3 separate regions of the Homo sapiens genome follow, and all the other regions are linked to region 2. Evidence: fine-mapped expression QTL. A gene starts in region 2. Each other region holds a variant in brackets. All regions are shown on one strand. Distances are from middle to middle.

What was found.
Region 1: its variant is fine-mapped to the expression of LINC00487 in minor salivary gland (GTEx, PIP 0.99).
Region 3: its variant is fine-mapped to the expression of LINC00487 in testis (GTEx, PIP 0.94).

Annotation. Positions count from the first base shown.
Region 1 is chr2:5,866,701-5,874,883 of GRCh38, forward strand. No RefSeq gene overlaps it. Among named protein-coding and RNA genes, the nearest start is that of LINC01810, 58 kb to the left of the region's middle. The variant A/C (reference allele first, on the strand shown) is at 3,457.
Region 2 is chr2:6,766,758-6,774,940 of GRCh38, forward strand. LINC00487 (long intergenic non-protein coding RNA 487) reads right to left here and starts at 3,554. Exons shown (of 6, transcript NR_038369.1): 1 at 3,322-3,554. LOC105373404 (a long non-coding RNA gene) reads right to left here. Exons shown (of 4, transcript XR_922745.3): 4 at 6,066-6,626. RefSeq lists an enhancer at 6,410-7,609.
Region 3 is chr2:6,789,819-6,798,001 of GRCh38, forward strand. It overlaps LOC105373404 (a long non-coding RNA gene), which reads right to left and starts at 7,116. Exons shown (of 4, transcript XR_922745.3): 1 at 6,930-7,116; 2 at 4,326-4,485; 3 at 1,057-1,150. The variant T/C (reference allele first, on the strand shown) is at 3,862.

The sequences.
Region 1 (8,183 bases), 900 kb before region 2:
TATAGGTGGTCCACATCAGTATTAAAGAAAGTAGCATGGCAGTACAGAACAAGATTTACTTGTCATTAAGTGGGGCTCTCGATGTTGGCTCATCTCCCTCCTGCCATATACTCTGAGGACAAACTGTTGTCTTTGCTGGACGGTGGAGAAGGATGAAGAAGGCTTAGTTACTGTCTTCATTTCCCTGCATTCCGATTCAAAGCATCACCAATGTCCAATTTCAGAAAGCCAAAAATCCTCATGCCGAGAGGGGATTGCCTTCATTAAATGTTTACTGGACACTCCCAGGGGTGATCTTTTCATTATATGTGATGGGCTGGGCTGCCGGGCCATCTTTGTGGTGAGACTCTTTGCCCCTGTTCTAGACAACAGTGTGGGCTGCCTAGGTGTCCGTCTCTGGACTCCAGCAGGGTGGGGCTGCTGACCAGGCTCCACAAGTGCTCTGGGCAGCAGCTGCAGACTCGACACTTCTGCCAAGGCGGCCTGTGTGGGCAGAACCAGGGCATGGAAATAGCTGAAATCCAATGGGCGTGTATGCTTCCGGCTGCTGCCCTGCTCATGCTCTCATCTAGCAGCCCCATCTGCTGCGTGGGAGGCAGCGAGGAGGGTGCAGTGTCTGGTGGCTGTGAGAACCCTGGCTGCCCCTGGGAGTCTGTGCCAGAGAAGGGCAGGACGGCAAAGCTGAAGCAACTGCTGAGGCCATGTTAGCCCCATTCCGCATCATACAGACCAAGCTGCAGAGGTCCAGACAGTGGGACTAGCATCCCCAATGTCAGACAGCTGGTTGAGGTAATAGAGCTAGAATCAGATTTCGTTGTGCACTGTGAAAACCATCTTGTTTCTAGGTCTTTCTAGACCAATTGCAACCTTTTTACTGATACTGGCATAATACCAGTTTTCCCAAATAGTCTGCTTATCATCTCACTCCTCAACGTTAGGCTTCATGAAGACTTCCTTTCCCTTCATTCTGCATCTTTGACACCTCTAGACCAGTTGTGATGACTCTAGAACAGCTGACCACAGAAACAGGCTAGGGTAATCCTACAAGGTGAAGTTCACAAGGCCAGTGCCTGCTTCCATGGTGCCTACTGCCAGGCCTGCTATTGCCTTTGAGATCTGACTCAGAACACAATGCCAAGAGCTTTCTATTAGATACAAACACCCGACTTTGGACACTCTGTTACTCAGGTTTTTTTAATCCCTCACATAGAAAAGCACCAGAGTTGTCACCATACAGAGCAACCCCAGATTCAAGGACAAATTGTTTGCATCTGTTAAAAGTCTTACAACTTAAGTTACCATTGGCTCCAAATAAGGTCAGTTTGGATTCTAGAAAACAGAAATCATCATTACCTCCTCTTTTTTATGAAAACTACCTTCTTGCCTCTATCTTTTATAAGAACTGTGTTTTACACTTACTGAATTCTCAGCACAGTAGAGTTTATTGAATCCTGGGATTTCTGTCCTCAGAGAGTCCTTGGGATCATCTAGTTAGAATTCCTTTCAACTTACAAATGCAGAAACTCACCCAAAATTCTTGTGTTTTGCCCTAGTTCTTGAGGCTGGTTATCTGATTTCACCCTCAGAACTGTAATCTAGGTCTTTCTGCAACCCTATGGAGGGGTCTAGTGAGCTGCAGAGGTGTTGTGCTCTGCAGAAAACAGGGGAGGCATGGAGCCCTGTAGGACTGTCTTTGAAACCCCACTCCACCTCCTTCTGAAAGGCAAGGCTGAGCTGTAATCTAAGTCTTTCCAGATATTCACTGAAGTCAGAACTGGTGCCAACCAACTCTAACCAATAAAAAGTCAAGTTTGCCCACTTGTGAGAGACGCCATGTGGCCTGGCCCTGTGCTTTCTTCCTGTGTGTGGGCTGCTCTGAGCAGGATGCATGTGGCAGCAGAGACGAGGAAGTGCCAAGGCTCATGAAGACCCCAGGACTACAGAAAGGACCGCTGACTTTACAGTATCATGGCCTGTGTGGACATAAGTGGACATAGGGCAGGGGCCAGCCAGTCAAGGAGTCCCAGGGACCTCGTGTTGACTTATCTTCTGCCCAAGTGGTGAGAAAGGAGGTGGAGACATCTGTGACTGCAGTATCAGCCGGACACAGTGGCACAGGGAGCTTTCTACCCTGTCTGGTCTACAGGCTCATGGAATAGTAGGCTACCCGGAAGCGTCTTATGATCAAAGCTTTTTGTGTGGCCTACGGTAAAATAAAGTAACTGAGGAACAGCTATAAATAGGGTAGGACACTCTTCCCAAGAGACTTCTTGCCGGGTGGTGGTCAGAGGCATCTGTGCCCACACCCAGGAATGCCCAACAGGTCCCAGGGCCATGAGACTATGCAGAGGACTAAAAGAGGGTGGGGACACAGCTGTGGTCTCAGGCCCTGACACTTCCTTCGAGGAAGGGTGCAACTGCATTCTTGTATCGGTGTCCTCCCAGGCCTTCCGGGGATTGCCCTGGAAGCGGCCTGCTGGAAATGGAAAGCTATGTGTCTTTTAATTGCTCCTGATCCCTGGAAAATCCCCAGGCGTGGTTGCCTCTGGGGATGTCTTACCCCGGAATAAGCAAGCATTTGAAGGTCTCTTGGCTTTCAGAGAAAAGGGAAACACGACACTGGTAGCTGTTGAAGCCAGAATCTCTCTTTCTTCTTCACACATTCTCTCTTCTCCTGTCCCTTACTCTGTCCATATTTCCTTTCATCTTTTTAGAGAGGTAGAGAAGTTTTTAAAATAGGACACTAGGAATCACAGAGCTGTAAATTTCTTTGCTTTCTTGCGTTTTAAAGATTTAAGAAGTGAGGCCCGGAGAAGGAGAGTGGCTTGTCCAGATTAGGAAAAATGAAGCCCAGAGCTTCTAAACTCAATTTGTGATAGAGCCTCCTTCTTCCTCACTGACGCCCACCTGTCCTGAGGCACCTGCACCTTATCTGCAGAACAATTGGATGTCCTGTTTGCTTGCCCATCTATCCACTCAGTTATACAGAGGGTTTCAGATTTTCTGTGGCACTGTGAAACAAACCAAAACCACACAGCTGCCTGGATTTGGGATCTGAGCTGAAAGATCGTCTTTGCTTCTCTACTGGTGACCCCAAGCCTGTTATCCTCTGTCTCTCGGGGCTATTTCCTCAGCTTTGCCATAGGGAGGGTTCACTTGGACACTAATGCTCTGGAGTTCACTTGGACACTAATGCTTTATCATCTCTCAAATCACTTTCATTCCATCTGAGTGTTGCAGAAATACATGCTTTGCAGGGAGCGCAATATTTAAGACAACCCAGTCCACCAGGCCTGCGAAGTTGGGAGCTCTCACCAACTTCACCAGACTTCAGAGTTGTTGTGAGATCAGCTAGAATGTGAGCCGCATGACATATTGCCACTGCGGCCCCCACACTCTGACATTCCTGTGCACGGCCCCTCAACAGCTGCTCCAGTGAGAATCCAAGTATAGTTC[A/C]CCCTGTGGCCACATCCTATGCTGCTTTTCGGATCAGCTTTTGGGTACGGCCATTTCTGTGAAGGCCAACCAGCTTGCCTTCATCTTACAGGCAAGAATTCCCTCACACATTCAATTTCAATGACTCGGTTCAGAGTTTATGTTCTTTTTTTTTTTTTTTCAGTCTTGCATTTACAAACTCACAAAAATGCAACCTGCAATAGCGTTATCATGGTTGTGCTGAAATAGTCGAGGATCTGGCTGGGGAGAGCTTCATACTTCCTGCAAGGAAAGGCAAGTGATCTGGAAAGCTAGAGTTTCTCGTTTCTGTTCTAGACCTTCAGTGTCAGGCCAAGTCTCGGGAAAGATCTGCAGCTCTAGGACTCAAGGCTAGAATGTGAGCCGGTGCTCTCCAAAGGTCCCATAGCGTGACTGAAGTTAGTGTAAAGCCAGTCATGTTTTTTCCAGGATAGCTCTGACCCTTCACTCCAACTCTGCCTTAACCAGTCACATCTCAACTTCACTCTGTTTCTGTCAAAGAAAAGCATAATCTTTACTTTTAGACACATCTGAGCTCAAGTCTTTCTCAGCCATTTGATATAATTTTGTTACCATGGCAAGAAAATTAAGTAGCCTTGCTTACTCTCAAGTTCCAAAACCTTAAAATCCAGCCACTGCCTGACCATGTGCGTATTGTGAGAATCAAATAGAGTAACACAAGTAAAGTACCTGGCATGCACGTGAAGTTCCTTTTCTACTCTCAGTTTCTGTCTCTAACATTCCCCATTCCCCCTTCCCCAGACGGCTGTAGTAGAAAAAACCTGAGAACACAAAAACTGGCTTCAGCCACCTAACGACCTCTGTGATTCTGAATAAGCTGCCTAATTTCCTCATTGGAAAAGTGGAAATAATAACAATACGGCAATTACATCTTTGATAGGATTACGTGATGAAGATGACAGTGATAATGATAGCTGATGTCTATGTTAAATATTTTATTTACGTTTAGTATTTGTGAGTACTATATGCCAAGTAGTTAATGCATCTCACTCACACAAACATATCAGGTGGATCACTATAATAATGTCTATTTTTCTCATGAGCGACTTGAGGCACAGAGAAGTTAAGTAACCTTCCAAGGTAACAGAGAGATGCTTCCAAGAGTCTACATTAGGAGTTCCTTTGTCTTTACTTACCTGCAGTGCCTGGCTTATCATCCTGCCCCGGTAAATGCCCTACCTGGGTGGAATGAACAAAGGTGAAGAAGGCGTCCTCCGCATTCCTACTGCAGATGGGGCTTTTGTATTTTTGCCCCAGGCTGTGGCTGTTGAATTGGAGACCCATCATGCTATTTGGTTTTTTGCTTTCAGGTGTTCAGGACACCAGTGATGGAGGCTTCCTAGGACCACTTGCTTTTAATTCAGCTTGTTAGGATTTCTCAGGATCAAAGGCAAAATACATGCAGCTCTAAGTCTGTGACAGTGAGCAAATAGCGATCAATGCCTGGGAGAAAGAATTTCAGGTTTAAGGCCAATTCCAACCTCTCTCCCCCGGCTGTGTCCTCCTTAAGCACAGTGCCCCCTCCTGCAGGTGCTTCTGCCAAGACACAGTTGCTCTGGAATGGTGAGAACTCATGTGCTCTTGAGCTTGCAAGAGGCTAAGACAATTATTTTCAGAAATGAACCAAGTTAATGAATGTAGATTCAACTTGCTATGATAGGAATCTGTTGACCCAGTAAATGTTATAAATTTTTTATAGGTGAATTACTTCCTTCTAAGCATATTTTTATAAATTCCTCCAAGTAATGAGTTGAATGGTATAGTGTTGCCTGGTTTGTATCTTCATTACCTGCAGTACTTGAAATCTATGATATTAAATCAGCACTCTATGCATAAAGTTATATAGAGATATCTAATTAATGGAATTACTGTGTGAAAAAAATGTAAAGTGTCAATTACTACAGTGCCCACATAAATGAGAACTCCCAGGTGACCTGAGGCTGCAAAACATACATTTTGCACACACAATAATTGATGTCTTTTTTCTTTTCTTCACAAATGCACCTGTTTCTAGTCCAGCCCTCTGGCTTTCCCTGGAATTTCCTCTCCACTTGGAATCGTGGAAGTGGCTAAAAATTCCACCTCAGATACATCTCTGCAGAACCTTAATTTCTACTTTTGGCTGCTATAAGTCTTGCTTCTTTGTTATCATGGCCTATGATCATGTAATGGACAGAATGTTGGAAGTAATTCTGCTAATTTAATGTTCATCCAAAGCTGACACATCGTCATTGCACCTTCCTTAGTTGATAAAACAGTCAAAAGATTGATCAAGTCTGTTTTACTGCAGTGAGCACATTTTCCTCTCCTTCCTAGTGTCTTTGATCTTTAAATCTCAGTTCTTCATTTTCTGTAGAAGGGATTCCCAAATTCTATTCTCTCAGCTGGCACTGTTCTGTAAATGTAAATAAATTTAGATACATATGTGTGTTCCTTAGTTGGAAGAACTACTATTTATTTTTAGAGTGATCTTTCCTATGTTTTAATGCTTAAATATCCTGAATGTGGGGTGATGATCAATTTTTGTTTTGTCTTGAATTTATGGATCTATTAATATCCCAAATCTGAAAGGCACTTGCGTAAGAATGCTGTTTTTCATTGATTCCCAAATACACTCTCCCTACCCCATCTTCTTATTTCTGAAACTGAAACATAACTTAGAGTCAGCAACACCTTAGTTTCAAAGAAATAGAGGTATATCCATTATTACAATCTTATCACACGTGGATAAGACGAATGTTTATAGACAGACTACTTTTCCTTTGGTTTTCTCATTGGAGTCATACAATTGAGTGTGTGTGTGGATGAACATACTCTCTGAGTTGCATCAAGATATTTTGGGGGTGGTTGATATAGATTGGATTTTTTTCCCTCAAAATCCATACATGGTATCCTTATAAGAAGAGAAAGACACCAGTCATGCACAGAGGAAAGGTCATGTGAGGACAGAACAGGAGGGCAGCCATCGGCAAGCCAAAGAGAGAGACCTCACCAGAATCCAACCCTGCTGTCACACTCTTCTTATACTTCTAGCCCCTAGAACTGTGAGAAGTGATTTTTTTTCCTTAAGGCACCTACTCTGTGATATTTTATTAAAGCAGCCCTAGATGACTAATACAATGGTAAAGGAAGAGATCAATGTTGCCATGATGATATTGGGAATTATTCTGTAAATGAACAAGTGAACTACAGCTTGGCCACACACACTGGAATGGACAAATTACAGATTATTATTTCTAATCTTTAATTGCAAAAGTTCTCCATATGCATTGTATTAGTCCACGCTCATCCTGCCAATAAAGACATACCCAAGACTGGGTAATTTATAAAGGAAAGAGGTTTAATTGACTCACAGTTCCACATGGCTTGGGAGGCCTCAAAATCATGGCAGAAGGTGAAGGAGAAGCAAAGTCATGTCTTATGTGGCAGCAGGCAAAGACAGCGCATGCAGAAATTATCTTTATAAAACCATCAGATCTCATGAGATTTAATCACAATCATGAGAACAGCATGAGAAAGACCCAACCTCATGATTCAATTACCTCTCACTGAGTCCTCCCACAACACGTGGGGATTATGGGAGCTACAATTCAAGGTGAGATGTTGGTGGGGATACAGCCAAACCTTATTATCTATTAAAATTCAGCATTAAAATCTGAGTCTATTTATTCATTTAAAAAATAAACTCTCAGCAAAGAAGAATAAAACGTCATCAAACTACAAAAAAGTATTTATAAATCCTATAGCTAATATTACACTTAATGATAAAAGACTGGATGCTTTCTTCCTGAGGTTGGGAGTAAAACATGGGTATCAACTTTCACCACTTCTATTCAATATTGCAAGAGGTCGTAGCTAGAGTGATAATGCAAGAAAAATAAATAAAGGGATAATAATTGGGAAGGAAGAGGTAAAACTGTTGCTTTTCACAAAGGGCATGATTATCTATGTAGAACACTCTAAGGAATATTAAAAAAAAACTAGTAGGATGAATAAATGAATTTGGCAAGGCTGTAAGATAATGATTAATATATAAAACATAAACAGTGGAAAAATACTTTTATAAAATATCATCTGTAAGAGCCTCACTAATACTTAGAAATAAATTTTATGACTGATGTGCAAGACCTCTGTAAAAATGACTAGAAAACATTACTACGAAATGATAGAAAATGTCTAAATAAGTAAAAAGACAGACAATGTTCATAAAATGAAATATGTAATGCTAAGATATCCATTTCTCCAAATTGATTCATAGATTCATTATGTTTCTAATAAAAATTTCAGCAGGCTTTTCAGAGTAATTGGTAAGCTGTTTTTAGAATTCATATGGAAATGCAAAGTATGTACAATATCCAAAATATCTTGAAGAGTTGGGAAAGTTGGAATACTTACACTAACTGATTTAAAGACTTACTTGGATCCTAGGCCTAAATGGAGAAACTAAAAGTCTAAAAATTCTAGCAGAAAACATTCTGCAATTTTAAAGTAGGCAAAGACTTCTTAGACAGAACAAAAAAAAAAACCATACAAATTAAAAATATATAAATTTATCTTATTCAAAGATAAAGTCCTCTGATTTTCAAAAGACACTGTTGAAAATATAAAAAGACAAGTCATCGAATGGGAGAAAATACTTTCAATCTGAATAATTGGAAAAGGGTTAATATCAAGATTACATAAAGCAT
Region 2 (8,183 bases):
GAGTTCCTGCCTCTTTTCGCTAACCTCATCTCATTTCACTTTCAACTGCAGGCTTGTGAAAATTAAGCAAAACCAAACCAAAACACAAGCTCTATGTGCTATGGATAGAAACTGCTGGAAGAGTTATAAATTTTTTTTTCTTTTTATATTATACTTTAAGTTCTGGGATACATGTGCAGAACATGCAGGTTTGTTACATGAGTATACACGTGTCATGGTGGTTTGCTGCACCCGTCAACCCCTCATCTACATTAGTTATTTCTCCTAATGCTATTCCTCCCCTAGCCCCGCCACCCGCCAACAGGCCCCAGTGTGTGATATTCCCTCCCTGTGTCCACGTGTTCTCATTGTTCAACTGCCACTTATGAGTGAGACTATGCGGTGTTTGAAGAGGTATAAAATGTAAAGACAGCTCTACGGTGTGGCCCAGAAGCTGTGCTTCTCACAGGTTCCCAGGCGGTGCTGGGGACGCTGGCCCAGGGTCTCCACTCGGAATCACTGCCATCAGGTGTCTCATTCTAACGCTAATTCAAAATTATTAAGGGCCACTGTGGGCCTTCTAACATATTCCCTTTTTTGAAAGAGTTCTCTGAAACTGAAACCTAACTAAGACTCTGAACTAAAGTTAGGAACTCATTTTTACTGATTAAAAAAAAAAAAAAAAAAGAAAGAAAAAAAAACTATAGCCCTCGCTAATATTGCTTCTAAATAGCAGGGCAGACAGGCAGTCTGGGCGCACCCAGTCATGATGGTGTCACTCGCCCTTCCCCAAATCCCCATCAGGATGAATCAAGGCAACATGACCCTCTGGGAACATTCCCCAGGCCCTTCCCCCAGTATGGCTTCTGGGAGCAACTGTGGGGCCAGGGGGTTTCCCAAAAGCCAGCTTTCCCATGACAAAAGTGCACAGAACATGCCCCACCCTTCAGTTCCTACGTCCTTGGAAGCACCAAGCAAGTCATACAAAGTCGTGGAATCACAGAGGATGGATTCACATAGGACGTTTCTAGTAAAACAGTGCAAGCTTCTCCTTGGCCAAAACCAGAGGGCTTCCTTCTGATGCCCCAAGTGGTGCTTGGGTCCCTGGCCAGGGAAACAGTTCACTCTCCCAGTACCTGCCCTTGTGCATTTGTCATAGGATTAGAAATGAGTAGCCAGCATGCTCATGGCCGTGTATTACAGCATAAATATTCAGAAACTTGCTTTAGACATCACTTACAGATTCTTTCCTGAAACTTCACATAGAACGTACAGAAACACAAGTATTGTGTGAAGCAGTTGTGGGGCCAGGGAGGTGCCCGGGCTTTGAGGGCACGTAGCCTTTGCCATGCAATAGCTTCTGGAATTACACGCATGGCCTGCTCCCCAGCTTCCCCACCAGCAGGGACTGGGGCGTGGACCGGGGATGGAGACTGGGGGTGGGGGTCCACCTGTGGACCTCCGATAGGAGGGAGCTGCTTGGCCCTTCTCTGGCCCATCTCTGGCAGGCAGTTGCTGGACAAACTGCAGAGGTCTCCACCTGCAGCATCCAAGGCACACAGGCTCTTCATAAAAATCCCTTTCTCCTGTCCCCTTCCAATTGGTGGCAGCTGCCACTCAGCATCTTTGGTTTTAAACAGTGAAATGGCTTCCCAGATGTCAGGGGGGAAAATCAGTGCAAGGCCTAGACTCGGAATTCCAAGTCGCCCCATCCAGATAGCTGCACCGAGAAGAGAGAAGACACAGGACCGTTTTGTCGTTTTCATTTCCGTTTTCTTTTACTAGGAAATTGAAATCGGGTTTCTGGTCTCCGCACTACGGGCTCAGAGGGTTCTTTGGTGTTGGGGAGGCATCGAGCCTTTGGTGCTGCACACACCCTAAACCCTGGCTCCACCCGTAGATGCCAAGAGCCCCCTCCAGCTGCGATCGCCAAAAATGTTTCCAGACTTTCCACCTACCTCCAGGGGCAAAATCACCTAGGATGAGAACCACATAATTCAGGGGCGTCCAGTCTTTTGGCTTCCCTGGGCCACATTGGAAGAAGAATTATTGTCTTGGGCCACACATAAAATACACCACACTAGCAATAGCTGATGAGCTAAAGAAAATCATAGCTGAGAAATCTCAATGTTTTTAAAAGGTTTACAAATTTGGGTTGGGCTGCATTCAAAGCCACCCCAGGCCACATGGGCTGCAGGTTGGACAAGTTTGAAATAAGTTATGCTATGGCAAACAATAAGCTGATATTATACAAATATTTTACTTACAAAAAAATAACTACCATAAAAAGATGTACGTGGAGGCGTGTGTGTGTGTGTGTTGGGTTGTGTGGGAAGGGGTGTGAGCATATGTGTGTGTTGAATGTGGGTGTGTGTGTGTTGGGTTGTGTGGGAAAGGGTGTGAGCAAGTGTGTGTGTTGAATGTGGGTGTGTGTGTGTTGGGTTGTGTGGGAAGGGGTGTGAGCATGCGTGTGTGTTGAATGTGGGGGTGTGTGTGTTGGATTGTGTGGGAAGGGGTGTGAGCAAGTGTGTGTGTTGAATGTGGGTATGTGTGTGTTGTGTGGGATATAAGTCTGTGTAATGTGTGTTACATATGATGCATGTGTTTATGTGTGTAGTGTGGGTGTTGGTGTGTGTGTATGTATGTATCTGTGTGTTTACATCTGTGGTGTATGTGTATGCATGTTTGTGTAGTGTGTGTTAGTGTCTGTGTATGTGTGTGGTATCTGTGTATTTTTGTGTGTAGTGTATGTGTGTGCATGTTTGTGTAGTGTGTGTTAGTGTCTGTGTATGTGTGTGGTATTGTGTGTTTATGTGTGTGGTGTATGTGTGTGCATGTTTGTGTGTGGCATGTGTTGGTGTGTGGCATTTGTGTGTTTATATGTGTGTTGTGTGTATGCATGTCTGTGTGTATATGTGTGGTGTCTGTGTGTTTCTGTGTGTGGAATATGTGTATGCATGTTTGTGTGTTGCATGGTGTGTGTATGTATGTGTGTGATATCTCTGTGTTTGTGTGTGTGGTGTCTGTGTATTCATTTTGTGTGTGTGGTGTGCACGTGTGTGGCATGCGTGTGTTTAAGTGTGTGATATATACATACACACGTGTGTGTTTATGTGTGTGGTGTATGTGTATTCATTCTGTGTGTGTGGTGTGCATGTGTGTGGCATATGTGTGTGTACGTGTGTGGTATATACATACACACATTTATGGATGGGGGTGTGTGTGTGTTGTGTGGGATATAAGTCTGATGAGGTAAAGAAGCTCCAGGAGATTCTCTTTGGTTGAATCTCATGCCATGAGACTTGGCTTCTGGCCACGATGGAGTGAGAAGCCTGGACTGACCTTTCTGCCTGGAGCAAGGGAACACCGTGTAGAACCGGCACGGCGCATCTTCCAGACGGCAGTGCCCAGGCTGCTTGGCAGGCACCCCTGCAGGAGGGGTCAGGGAGGTGGGCACCCAGCGGTCCCTCAGCACCCGTCCCGTGTGGCACAGTCCAGCCGCCTCCCAGGGCCGAGGAGGGGAGACGCAGGCTCCTGGGCTGCTCCCACCCAGGCCCCTGGAACAGCGCATCTTCTGTGACCGTGGTGAAGGAAAATCTCAGCCTCTGCTTCCCACCTCCTCAGCCCCTGCCTCAACAGGAAGCCCACAGCGCAAGAGACGCCATTCTAGGGCCAGGAAGGAAGAGCCTCAGACCCTGGAATTGCCATGTACAAACTAGACGTGTATTTATGGTGTGTCTGAATGTACAACAATTTCCTGTTTCGGAGAAAATAGTTCCTTCCTGGAAGGGCTGTTCTGTATTTGCACACTTTTCCCATGTGATTTTGGGGAAAAGTACCTGACTTTCTGTGAATAGACGCACTTTTTCTTACCGAAAATAATGATAGTTTCAATCTGGCTATAATCGTTCATATTCATGATTTTTTTCGGATGTAGAAATCAGCAGTTTTGCATTGTAAGACCTCACCCATCCACCACTCACCGTCCCCACACCCCTGGGAACAGGAGGAACCTCACAGAAGAAGAAGGTGGATTTTACTACCTACTTGCCACACCTCAATCTCTCTGTCTGTAAGCAGAGAGAATACGGTAATAATAATATTAATAATGATAATAATAATACCTTTCTCACAAGTTCGCAGGGAGGGATGAGTTCATGCACATAAAATGCTCAGCCCAGCACAGCTGAGCACACGATTCTCAGCACTATTACTTGCATTCTTGTCACTGAAAGGAAGAGGGAACGGAGTGTGACAGCGCAGGTTAGACCCCCGGCGCAGCCATCCACCTGCCACTTTGTCACAGGGACTCCACGACTAACTGCCGCCCTATTTTCCCATAAGCAGGCAATGGTGATGATAAAATCATTCTCAAAGCTTAGGGAGGCCAGGACCCAACCCAGGGCCGATCAACGCAAAGCCCTTGCTGCTTCCTATCCCATAAAACCCAATTATTTATGAATGTGAACCTAAAGCCGCATCCTAATTTAGAAGGCATGGAGATAACATGGCCAAGCAGCCGCCTCTCCAGGCAGCGAGATGACTAGGTAGGTCCCAGAGCCCTGAGCATGTCCCCTAGAAAACAACTCAAGACAAGTGCATTTGCATGCCTTCTTCTGTCTCTCTGAAATCACTCAGTTATAGTCACTCAGTGTGTGCTCACAAACACTGAGTCTCCCCTACACGTGATGCATTTCAGTACCAGGGCAATTCGAGTGAGAAACATGGCCATAGCCCCCAGCCTCTTGGACTATCAGAACTCTTAGGAAGTACAAGGATTGAAATATGTGGTCTAACAGCAGAGCGGTATTTTTCTCATTGTACCACCTTGTTGTAAAAAATTGCTGGAGCCTGAAGGAAACCACCTATGGGAAGGGTGTGAGTCAATGGTTCCCCACTTCTGCAGAGTTCCTTCTGAGCAGCTCAGAGCCCACCCCGTGTGGACACATCTCTTACCAAGATGACCTTCCCCTAGCGGGAAACGGAGGAATGAGCAGGCGGCACTCACAGTGCCAATTACAGCAAGGGGATTTGCATAGGAGACCTAACTGCCTGTTTCAATTAGGAGCAGCAACTCCCTCCTTCTTCCTTCCCAAGGAGCCAGGAACACCAGGCATGTGGGTTTGGATTTGTCTGGGAGGAGGCATGACTGTGCGCACCAGAGTGAAAGCCTCCCCACTCACACTGCTCACCTGGAGAGAGGCTCAGGGATCCTGGCAGGCGCAATGTTTGAGAAATGCCCAGGCGAAGAAGATGAATGCTTCCTTTCACCGGGCCCTCCCTGGCTTTAACTCTTCTTAGTCCTGTCTCTGGGAGACCCTGGCAGCCCCTCGCAGCTGTGACCTCTCTAAACTGTCAGCCTCAGATTAACTGATACTTCATCAATTTTGCCTGAACTGCATTTGCAACCCGGTCTCAAGAGGACAGCCAAGTGCATCAACGCTGGGCATTAACCCCCCAGAACCAGATTGCCTTCAAAACGAGGGGGACTTTTCCAATATTCTCACAGCGGCCCGGGCAACAAGCCTAGGGGGACTTTGGCCAGAGGGGAGAGAAGGGGCCTCTGATTATTCCTTGTAAATTTTTCATGAGGACATCTGCCCATACTCTGCGCCTCCTCCAGAGCTGCCCTCTCTCTCTCTCTCCCTTCCTCTGTCTCTGTGTTCAGGCCTCTGACAAGGCATGAAAAACGAGAATGATTGGGCCTCAGTCCCCATTAGCCAGGAAGTGACTGATGGGAGGATGGGCGTGTGTGGTGACTTCAGGCTTGGGAGGGGCCGGGGCTGCCGGGTTTTGAAACAAAAGACCAGTCAGGAATGGATGAGTCCTAGGTGGATCTGCAGATGGAGGCTGTGCTGTGAGTAGGTGGCTAAGGTGCACAGATGGTCATGGCTGATAGGCCAGCCTGGCCCGGGCTCCTGGTTCTGCAGACCCCAGCTCTGGGCTGGAAAATCGGTCCCCGCCTCCCCCATCTTCCCCAAGATTGTCCCCGTCCTTCCTCGGGCAGACCTTCACCGTGGAGCAGAAAGCTGCCTACAATATCGCCCAAATCAAAGCCAAGAAGAATTAGAGTGTAGGGACAGGGGAACAGGGAAGTGCTTTTTTAATTTAAATAATAAAAAATAAAAAATAGTCATTCTTTTGGAAATACTAGCAGCTTACAAGCTTTAAAATCCTCTTTCCCAACAGTTTAAATCAAAAGCCAGCAGCCCTTTCTCATGGATGCATCAAATCATGCAGATGTCCTTTTTGTGCCCCCTTTAAGGTGACATGTGCTTCAATTTATTTTTAATCTTCTAAGTGATGTCATCAGGACGCCGCCCGGGTGACACGGGAGGTGGCTGCTCCTGGGGCTGTGGGTCTGGGCAGTGCAAGCTCCACGCGCACTGACCCCATGGGCTCAACCCAGAGTCCACAGTCAGAAACCGGCCCCGGGCGGCAGGAGACGCTGCAGAGGGAGATTCCATAGAAGAGGTAAATTCATTAAGAAACTCATCACCGAGCACACCTTAGAAATCCCACCTTTTGTGCTCAACGTGGCCGGGTCCCCGGGGACGCCGTTGGCAGCTCTCCATGGAGCAACAGTGCCACCCAGTGGTCAGTCCTCGCGATGCCGCCGCCCGCTCCCCTGTGCGGTCCTCAGCGGCCTGGGAGAAGACAGAGAAAATGAGTTGGTACAAACGCTTGCCCCGAATATCACATCTTTAAATAGTTACCCACATGAAAGAAGGCCTGCAACTGATTCAAAACCACCTCGATGAAAAAAATCTGAGCACACCCATCAAAGGCACTGCGCACAGAACTCAGGAATGTTTTCTGCTGTTTGGAGTTTTCTTCTCCCCTCCTCCCTCCTCAATAACGATACTGGTGATTACATCTTCCAGGGGAAAATAAAATTAAATGCATCGACTTAATTGTTTAATTAGTGTGAGCATAGGTAGTACTATCCAATTCAAAGATCTAAGCAACTGAAATTCCATTTGGAGGGAGTTCCCCCACTACGGGAAAAGGAAGCAGGAGTGTCACAGGATTGGGGATCACACAGATGGAGGGAGAAATCTGGCCCTACATCTCCCGCGTGTGGCTGATGACGATGGGTGAATCCCCTGTGGGCATTCCTGCCTCCTCATCTGTGAAGCGGATCACCTGTGAAGTCAAATTTGCAGAGAAAGTGATTCTAATTGATGAACTCGAAAGAAATGGGAGTATTGTTACCACCCAGCTTCCTTTTGAACCCCTGCCTCTATTCCTAATGCCATTTCCACTGTACCTTTCCGCCTAAATGTCCCCTTTCTCTCTTTACAGACCTGTAAGCGCAACGCAGACCCCGCCCTCCTGCGCCAACAAGCCTCTTCTCCAAACGCTCCATGAAAGCTGATGATTCTCACTTCTAGGTTTTCTGATTGATCACGTTGTCAAGATGGATCTCTGTATTTTCCTGTATTCTTCTCCCCATAGCTCTTTCCTCATATTGTGGATGCTTTAGAAACCCTTATTAGTGAATTGGCTTGTTTTCAAATTAGAAAAACCTGAATGTTAAGGCAGAAAGGACCTGAATCTTAAGGCAAAATACTTGGATCCACGATCTGACTTCATCTCTCCGTATCTGGCCTTATCTCTCCAAATCAACAGGAGCAATCCCTTGATTTAGGTAGAGGGCTGTTATTTTGTTTTGTTTTCATCCATGAAATGAAAGTTTGGGCTGGGGAAAAGTTTGCAGTATTTTTGTTGTAGTTCCTGCAAGTTTTCAGCTAATTACTTAGTGATGCCTCTTAAAAATCTCACATAGTGTGTTATTTCAAAAAGTTATTCCGTGAGTCCTGTAAATTACTAGGTTAAATCGTGTAAAATTGCTGTTTTATTGGCCAAAAATTAACAACTATGAAAAAATGTCATAAGATATAACCTAAAATAGCTCTTCCAGAGAATTAAATCACTCAGTTATAGTCACTCATTGGTGCCCACAAACACTAATTGAGTGTCCGCTATACGTGGTGCATTTCAGCACCAGGGCAATTTGAGTGGAAAACATGGCCCCCAGCCTCCTGGATTATCAGAACTCTTAGGATGTACAAAGGACTGAAATCCGTGGTCTAACAGCAGAGTGGTGTTTTTATCATTGTACCACCTTGTTGTAAAAAAAAATGTGCTGGAGCCTAAAGGAAACCATGCATGGGAAGAGTGTGAGTCAATGATTGGCTATG
Region 3 (8,183 bases), 23 kb after region 2:
GCATCCTGCAGAAAAGTCAGCTCATCTAGCTGCACACGAACCAACCCGATACTCTTGCACATTAACTCAAGCCTGTAATTCCACGTTGAATTTCTCATGGCATTAGGAAAGCACTCAGGCATCTCTCCACGGAATTACAACCCTATTATGTACAATTGAGTATACATTACTCCTTATTTTCATGTCAATAGCTTGGATAAGGCTATTACTAAAGCACTGGAGTATATAAGAGTTACATACTTAGGGGCAGAAAAAGCTGAACTGGGAAATTAAGATGCAAAATATGAGTGAGTAAAAGCTATATTTTTGTGACACATTTATATCTCAACTGGAGTAATTAGACAAATATGAAATGAGACAAATTGTCATTTTATTTATTTCCATTTTTACTATCATCTAGTCAGCTTTTAATCTGTATTCACCTGCACAAAGTATGCATTTCAGTGGTCTTATCTCTGGGAAAGGCAGGCAAACTGATGCTGCCTCCTACAATATCTAGTTTCCTTTCAAGAAAGCAGAGGGGTTATTGTTTGCCAATTAAAAATAAAAGAACAAGCCTTAGGGGCCAGACTGGGAATAAAGTGGAGTTTTTCCCCAAAATTTTAACACTTTTTTAAAAGTGACAATAATAATAACTGCCAGTTACTGAACTATTTGGGATAATATTTCAGAAAATGAAATATGGAGCAAGGCTGGCAGTTAAAATAGAGTCAATAAGGTTCAAATCCCGCTCTGTCATTAATTATATCTCTCTTAGACTCACTTCTTCATCTGTCAAATGGGGTTTGACATGGGGTTTTTAAAGAATTAAATGAGACGATCTATATGAAAAACTTAACCCACTATATGGCACATAAGCACTTAAAGCTTGTTATTTTCAATTATTACCGAATTATTAATTTAGGCAAATCATAGTCTTTTTGAACCTCTATTTTCTTACCCACAAAATGGGAATAATAATACCTATGCCACAGTATTATTATGAGGACAGCAAATGGCAATGGTGGCAGTTGCTACTGTTAAGTGGGTTGAGAAGCCGGGCAGGGTGGCTCATACCTGTAATCCCAGCACTTTGGGATGCTGAAGCAGGAGGAATGCTTGAGTCTAGAAGTTTAAGACCAGCCGGGGAAACATGATGAGACCTCCATTTCTACAAAAAAATATAGAAATTAGCCAGGTGTGGTGGTGCGTTCCTATAGTCCCAGCTACTTGGGAGGCTGAGGCACGAGAATCACTTGAGCCTGGGAGGCAGAGGCTGCAGTGACTTGAGGTCACACCACTGCACTCCAGCCTGGGTGACAGAGAGAGATCCTGTCAAAAAAGAAAGAGACCCTGTCAAAAAAGAAAGAAAGAAACCATCCTGGCCAACATGGTGAAACCCCGTCTCTACTAAAAATACAAAAGTTAGCTGGTTGTGGTGGCGGGCACATGTAGTCCTGGCTACTCAGGAGGCTGAGGCAGGAGAATCACTTGAACCTGGGAGGCGGATGTTGCAGTGAGCTGAGATTGTGCCACTGCACTCCACCCTGGGCAACACAGTGAGGCTCTGAGGAAGAAAAAAAAAAAAAGCAAGAAAGCAAGCAAGAAAGAAAGAAAGAAAAAAGAAAGAAAGGGAGATAAGCGAAGGGAAGGGAAGAGAAAGAGAGGGGAGGTGAAGGAAGGAAAGAAAGAAAGGAAGGAAAGAAAGAAAGAGAGAGCGAAGAGAAAAAAAAAACTGAAGAAGAAAAAAAGTGGGTGGAGAGCTTAAGGCAAGCTTCCAGGAGGATGGAAGACTCTGGCGACTTCTTGAAGAAAGAGAAAGATACTGGGGTTCACCAAACAAGAGAGTGTGCATCCTGAAGAGTGCTCCAGATGCCTTCTCCAGCTATGATGACAGCACCTGAGGGTGGAAGGGAGGCCCTAGAAAGGGACCAGAGAGAACCGGGATGCCAAAATCATGGGACAGAGGGTGTGTCTGCAGCACAGCTTGGCAGGAGCAAAGAGATACAGTCAGAGAGGACTTGACCCACACTGGCCCACAGGTGGCAGCCTAGGGAGACCCGCTGCCCATGGAGAGGGAGCCGTCAGATGATCAAGTTTAAGTTGATGGCTGAAGGAAGGCAATTACTGGAAGCAAAGTGAGCCAGTCAGCTATCCTGGAGATTCTGCAAATAAAGTGCAGGGTGAGATGAGGACAACTGCCTCTGCGATTTGTCACAGCTGCCCTGGAAGCTCCTTCTGCTACATCATCCCAGTGCTTCTCATTTGGTGGCATTGGTGACACTTTAGTCCATAACCACCATTGTCCATGGAGTCATTGATCCATAGGTTATCCACAGAGCTATGTCCTCCTTGCTGGATAAATGCACAAACTGAAGAAACACATTGAGTCACTGCTAAGGGAATGCCTCAGCTGAGGTCACCAACACAGCATGGTGTGGTGAGAAGGACCAGCCGGCAGTGCCAGGCCAAGCATGTAGGCCAGGAGTGTTGCATGAGGTCAGGAGCCAGGGCAGTGGTGTGGATGGTCCTGCTATGGTTTCCAGAATAAAATGAGATTTTGTTCTTTGATTTTCCACAGTCTGAAATCAATTCTTCAGAACTTTTAGGGCCGAGGCCAAAATGAAAGATGAGATAAAATTACCATAGGCTTCAATTCTGAGTCACAGCTTCACCACCAAACTGGAAAACTGGTGGCTACGAGCATCACTGGAGATATCTCTGAAAGCCAAGAGCACACTTCCAGCTCTGCTGGTCAGTTGCTGCCTACCAAGGGCTGCACTGGGCTCATTAACATCCTGCTCAGAAATGCCACTTGGCTGCAAAGGGAGAAATTGCATCCTCAGAAAATACCTTATGAAAGAGAAGGTTTCTGCTTCTCTCCATTTCTCTGCTAACAGAGACAGTCTTGAAAGGCTACAGGGAGGAGGAAGGAGGAAAGACGGAAACACAGACAGGAAGAGAGACCGTGTTGTATTGACACACGTTTCCAGCAAAATTACCTGGTAATTTACCCTGGCAGTTAAAGAAAAGCATCTGTTTACTGTTGCCACATCAAAATTTCCCCATAAGATTTGTCCGAATAATTGTGGGAGATGAAAACAAGGATATACAGTGGAGGCCTCCATCAGCCGTCAGTGCTGTGCCATGTCTCACCCACTTTTACATCCTGTAATTAAATCAGCGAGCCATTCAGACTGTCTCTGTTTCTAAATTACACGAAATGAGGATCCTTCCAATCACGCCTCACATTCAATTTGTGCTGTCACTCTCTGACTTGAGGAATGGTGAAAGAAAAAATAAAGTCCATCTGGGAATTTTATTTAACCAGGGAATGCCAACCAATACAAGAGATACGGAGCTATAAACAAGTGTTTTAAATAGGGTCTCCCTAGTCTCAAGTCTTGCATAGATGAATGCAGGAAGAAAAGATTGAGGATCTGCACTTTGGAGCACATATTTTTAAAGAATGGACTCCTATTTCATTTTCCACATGGCAAGTATGTTATCCTCAGTAACAGACTAAGGTCTTTGCATGAATTATTAAAAATCCAGGGCAGAAAACTCTAGATAACTGCTTCAATTTGTCGATAGAGATGCAACTTGTGACCAGACCAAGAAGATTAGAGACAAAAATCAAGCAAAAAGAGATTCTATAGCACAGCTCTTAAAAACAACAGGCCCGTTGGCTACTTCAAACACTAACTCTCCCACCTATTAATTGCATCACCTTAAGCAAGCTTCTAAACTCTGCTCTGTGACGCAATTCCCTAGCCTGTGAAGTAGCACTGGTGTGGTCACTTATAAACCCTCCCTCCTGAGAGCATGACAAACTCCAGTATATACAGTAAGCACACAAGGCAAGGACTCTATAAATATTCT[T/C]TATTGTTAAAGCTCAATTACTTGTGAGGTAAGTAGGAGAGTTGTGTAGGATTGTGAAAGGGCTTTGATTTTTGGTGCAGACAGTCCAGAGTTTAAAAGTTGTTTCTCCCACTATCTGATCAGAGGCTCCGGAAAAATTAAAGCTTCTATACTTTAGTTTTCTAAATTAGTAAAAAGGTAAAATGCTGAGGATGAAGTCAACCTCCAAGGAGCAGTTTTAGTCGTTAAACAGACTGGTCAAAAGTTAAAGGATTAGTGCCTATTAGTGCCTTTCTCCTTTTCTCCTTCATCAAATAGTAAACTGGGAAGAGCTAAAGCAGAGATCCATAGATCTCAGAAGACGTGAGTGCATGCAGGAACGGTCTGCTTCTCATTCTTCATGTCAAATGAGAGACCAAGAACAGAGGAGGAGCTCATGCAGGCCCAGGCATGTTGCCCGGCACTACGCAGATATAATAACTCACCTTATTACAGGAGCCCTACAACACAACCCTCGTGAGATCACACAGAAGGTCTAAGTCATTTTGTTTGTCTCCTGCATGGTTCTGATGCCACAAATTATTAGGCAGTTCAACTGTAGATTTGCCAGCACTCCCCAGTCACACTCGTTGATGTGCCATGAACCTGCATGGAGAAGAGACATTCCTGAACTGTGATACAGAAGAACACAGGGCTGATTTGCAAGATCTTTTCTATCCACCGTATGCTTTCTTCGAGTCATATTTCTGTGGATTTGAACAAAGAGCTATGCACTGCCCTTGAACCCTTGATGGTGATCATCATCCGTGTCTTATTTATGTCTCTATTTCCAGGAAGAAACCCAGGGCCTGGCACATCACGGGTTTGCAATAGCTGCATGTCTGCCTGTCATTTTCCCTGAGCCTCCTCGGTTCTATATATATTTTTGCTGATTTTGTGCATATGTTGGAAAAACCCTAGAGAAGCAACAGAAAAGCACTGTTCAGCTTCTCGCTGATGTTCTGACCACGTGATCATGATCCTACACTGGGCCATGTGACTGAACTGGTTCTTTTACCTCAGCAAGTCTAATGGCAGCTGTTTGTTAAGTGCCTCCTCTCTGTCTAACGCACTTTACATGGGTTGCTCCATTTAACTGTCGCAGCCTTCTGAAGGAAGCGGTGATATAATCATCCCCATTTTACACATGAGCAAACCGTGGCTTGGGGCAGTGCATTTGCCCAAACTCACACAGTTAGCAAGTACCTGAGGCACCTGGACGAAGGAGCTGCCTTGTTTCCACTTTATTGCACAGGTTCCGTCATCTTATTTAATCTTCACAACAGCCCTATCAAGTCGCTGTTATTATCCTAGTCATAGATGGGGCAGTGAGGGAGGCTTATACACGATAGGCTGGAATTGGTACCCAGATCTTTTCACCTGAAAGCTTAGAATCTTCCATGCACCCCTCGTGGGCTGCTGTGATGAACTCCTGGCCAGGACACACGTGCCTCATGGCCTGAGAAGAGCTCACCACAGCCATCTCCACAAAATAGAATGAGAGAAGTTCAGCGCTGGAGGGAGCATAGGCGATCATACATTCAATCCCTTTGCATTAAAGATAAGGAAACAAATTTTTAAAAATGCCCAGTCTCCTGAAACCCACTTTCCATAAGGAGAAGAAAATAGAACTATATGAAGAAAGGCCAAAGATGGAACTTGTTGGTCTAAAATAGCAGTCAGAAAAGCCCAAAGCCTATCTTTGCTATGGCCCAAGTTAAAAATGGTTTTTATATTTGTAAAGGAATTAAAAACAAGCAATCAAAAAAGACGAAGAAGAAGAATAATCTATGACGGAGACCTGATGTGGCCCACAGAGTCGAAAATCTTCACTCTCTGGCCTTTCACGGAGAAAGGATGCCGACTCCCGATCTGAGCTATGGCTGCGTGTTAGAATGTCCTGGGGAATGTTTTCCAACAAGCCCATCCCCTTTTTAAAAAAATTAATAAAAAAATAAAAACAAAAGCAGAACAAACAAAATATATGCCTGTGCCCAAGTCCAGCTGGAACCAAGCAAATCAGCATCGCTAGAGATGGCAGCCCAGGTGGTGATGCCACTAAAAGTTCCCGGGTGACAGTAATGCACATCCAGGATGGAGAACAGTGGTCTAAGAAGAAAGACAAATGCCTCTTTAGGAAAAAGTTGCTGTTTTATTTAAGAAAAAGACCTCAGTGGGCCTGTGTGGCTGTGAATGTCAAGGTCCACTGGTTCAAAATGAGAAACGTTTAGAAAAAAAAAATGAACTCTTCTGATCGTAAACAACAGAAACTGTTGCCTGCTCTTGGTGGAGATATTAGACAAAGGAGAAAACACAGAGTGAGAGAAGAGAGGTTTTGAGAGAGAGAGTCGGCCAGGATGTGATGGGGTCAGGCAGGCTCAGGAGAGAGCAGCTCAGGCAGGATGGCCTGTGGTGGATTGGACTGGATTTCTAGTGGTCATTCATAAGTTGTTGCCTGTTCTCTGATGGGGCCACTGTATGGCTCCCAAATGTCAGCAAAGTCTGTTTCTCCAAAGCCTGCGTTGGTGGAGTTTAAAGAATGAGGGGAGCGAGGAGTAAAATGCTGGCTGTGGGCAGGGAACCAATGACGTGGGTGGGCAAGAATCCAGGGGCCCGAGCACCGGCCATGAGAATAAGGGCCTCCTCGGACAGAAGGGGACGCTCCCCTTAGGAAGTGGCTTCACGCTTCGGTCACTGCATGTAGATCTTAAAGAAAGGAAATCTCCAGAAGATCGGGGAATGTGGGAGTGGCAGACTCTGGGTTCATGCACAGTAAGCAAACAACTTTCCTTTTTCCTGCAGCTCCCTGTTCCACTTTCCCAACACGTTTCAGCTTCTAGAATCCCTGTCTTTGCTCATATCATTCCCCTGCCCAGGATAGCACCCTTCTCTCAAATGATCAAAAAGACCACTTTGCTTTAAAACCAGCTCAGGCTTCATCCTATGTGCAAGAGCCTTTCTAAGGCCATCTCTGTATTTTCTCAGAAACAAAGGATATATCACTGTTTTTAAGATGTGTTATGTTTATACTTTTATTGGTCTTAACTTACCTATCAATGACACAGGGGCCTTCTCTTATGCCTGGGTTCAAAAAGAGATGCTGAGACAACAAAGGAAGATGCTCGCACCCTCAGCATCCTCACCTGCCCCCTCCTGCAGGCAGGATTCTGCCTGATGGAATCCCAGGTTTGTGAGCCAACACACAATGTTTATGATCAAATCACCAAGAAAGAGGCAGAAGGAGAGAATGAAAGCGCAACCCAATGAGAGCAGCAAGTGCAGAAGGAAGAGAAAGTGTCCAGCCTCATCTGTCTGGGGAAGCTAGGTGTGCATGCAGGGTCAGTGCAAGCATATTTGTTAGTCCCCTGCCACTGAGATGGAGGCCAACAGTTTCTACTTCTCAGAGATTGGCTCCAAATTTCCTATGCAAGATGGCCTTGGAAGAGGCAAACTGGTTGGAAGAGGGGGTTTGACATTATCATGGGGCTCTCTGCAGAAGATGAGAAAATGTCTACAATTTATATCAGAGAAAAATAGAAACAGGTGAAGACTGCTGTGGCTCTCTGAGCCTTTCAAGCAAGGTGATGAGCAGCTGACTTCGTGTAGGGGTGAAGGCCAAAGACTGAGCTAAACAAGTACATGCAAATGTGTTATCAAAACAGGGTGCAGGAGAGACTCTCTTAAGCAGAGGGGCAGAACTGATAGGGTCCGAAAATCTCATCGCAGGGCAGGAACTGCAGATCAGAAGAGGGACAGGAATCCGACGGCAGCATTCTGAGCTGGTTTCTTACAGGCTTCTTCCATGTGTTTTTGTGGACAGCATATGCCCTTTTAAAGACACTAAGCACCAAGAAAGAAGAGCCACAAATACCCGACCTGGGATGGGGCCTTTCTGCACTTTAGCACCAAAATTTTTAAAAATGAGAAACCTGGGGAGAGCAGCTGACACTTGTCAAGGTCTTACACTGCCAGTCCCTCCAGAAGTGCTTTACCCATAATGTCCTTTAATTCTCACCACAGTCAAGTGCTGTGAGTCTTAGATGATCGACAAGACGTGAAAAGAAAGCAAAACAGAGGCCTGGCCTCGGTGGAGCCCAACATCAAAGGCCAGAGCAGAAAGAGTGGTCAAGGGTGCAGGTCAGAAACAGAGGTTGGGCCACAGCTGGCCAGACGTGGTGGGGAAGGCATAGCTTCCTCAGCCTGGAAGAGCACATTCACCCACAGAGTATCCTGAGGTTATCGAAATTCCACAGGAGGCCCAGCGTCCTCTCTCCAAAGACCAACCTCCACTGCTCTTATGATTC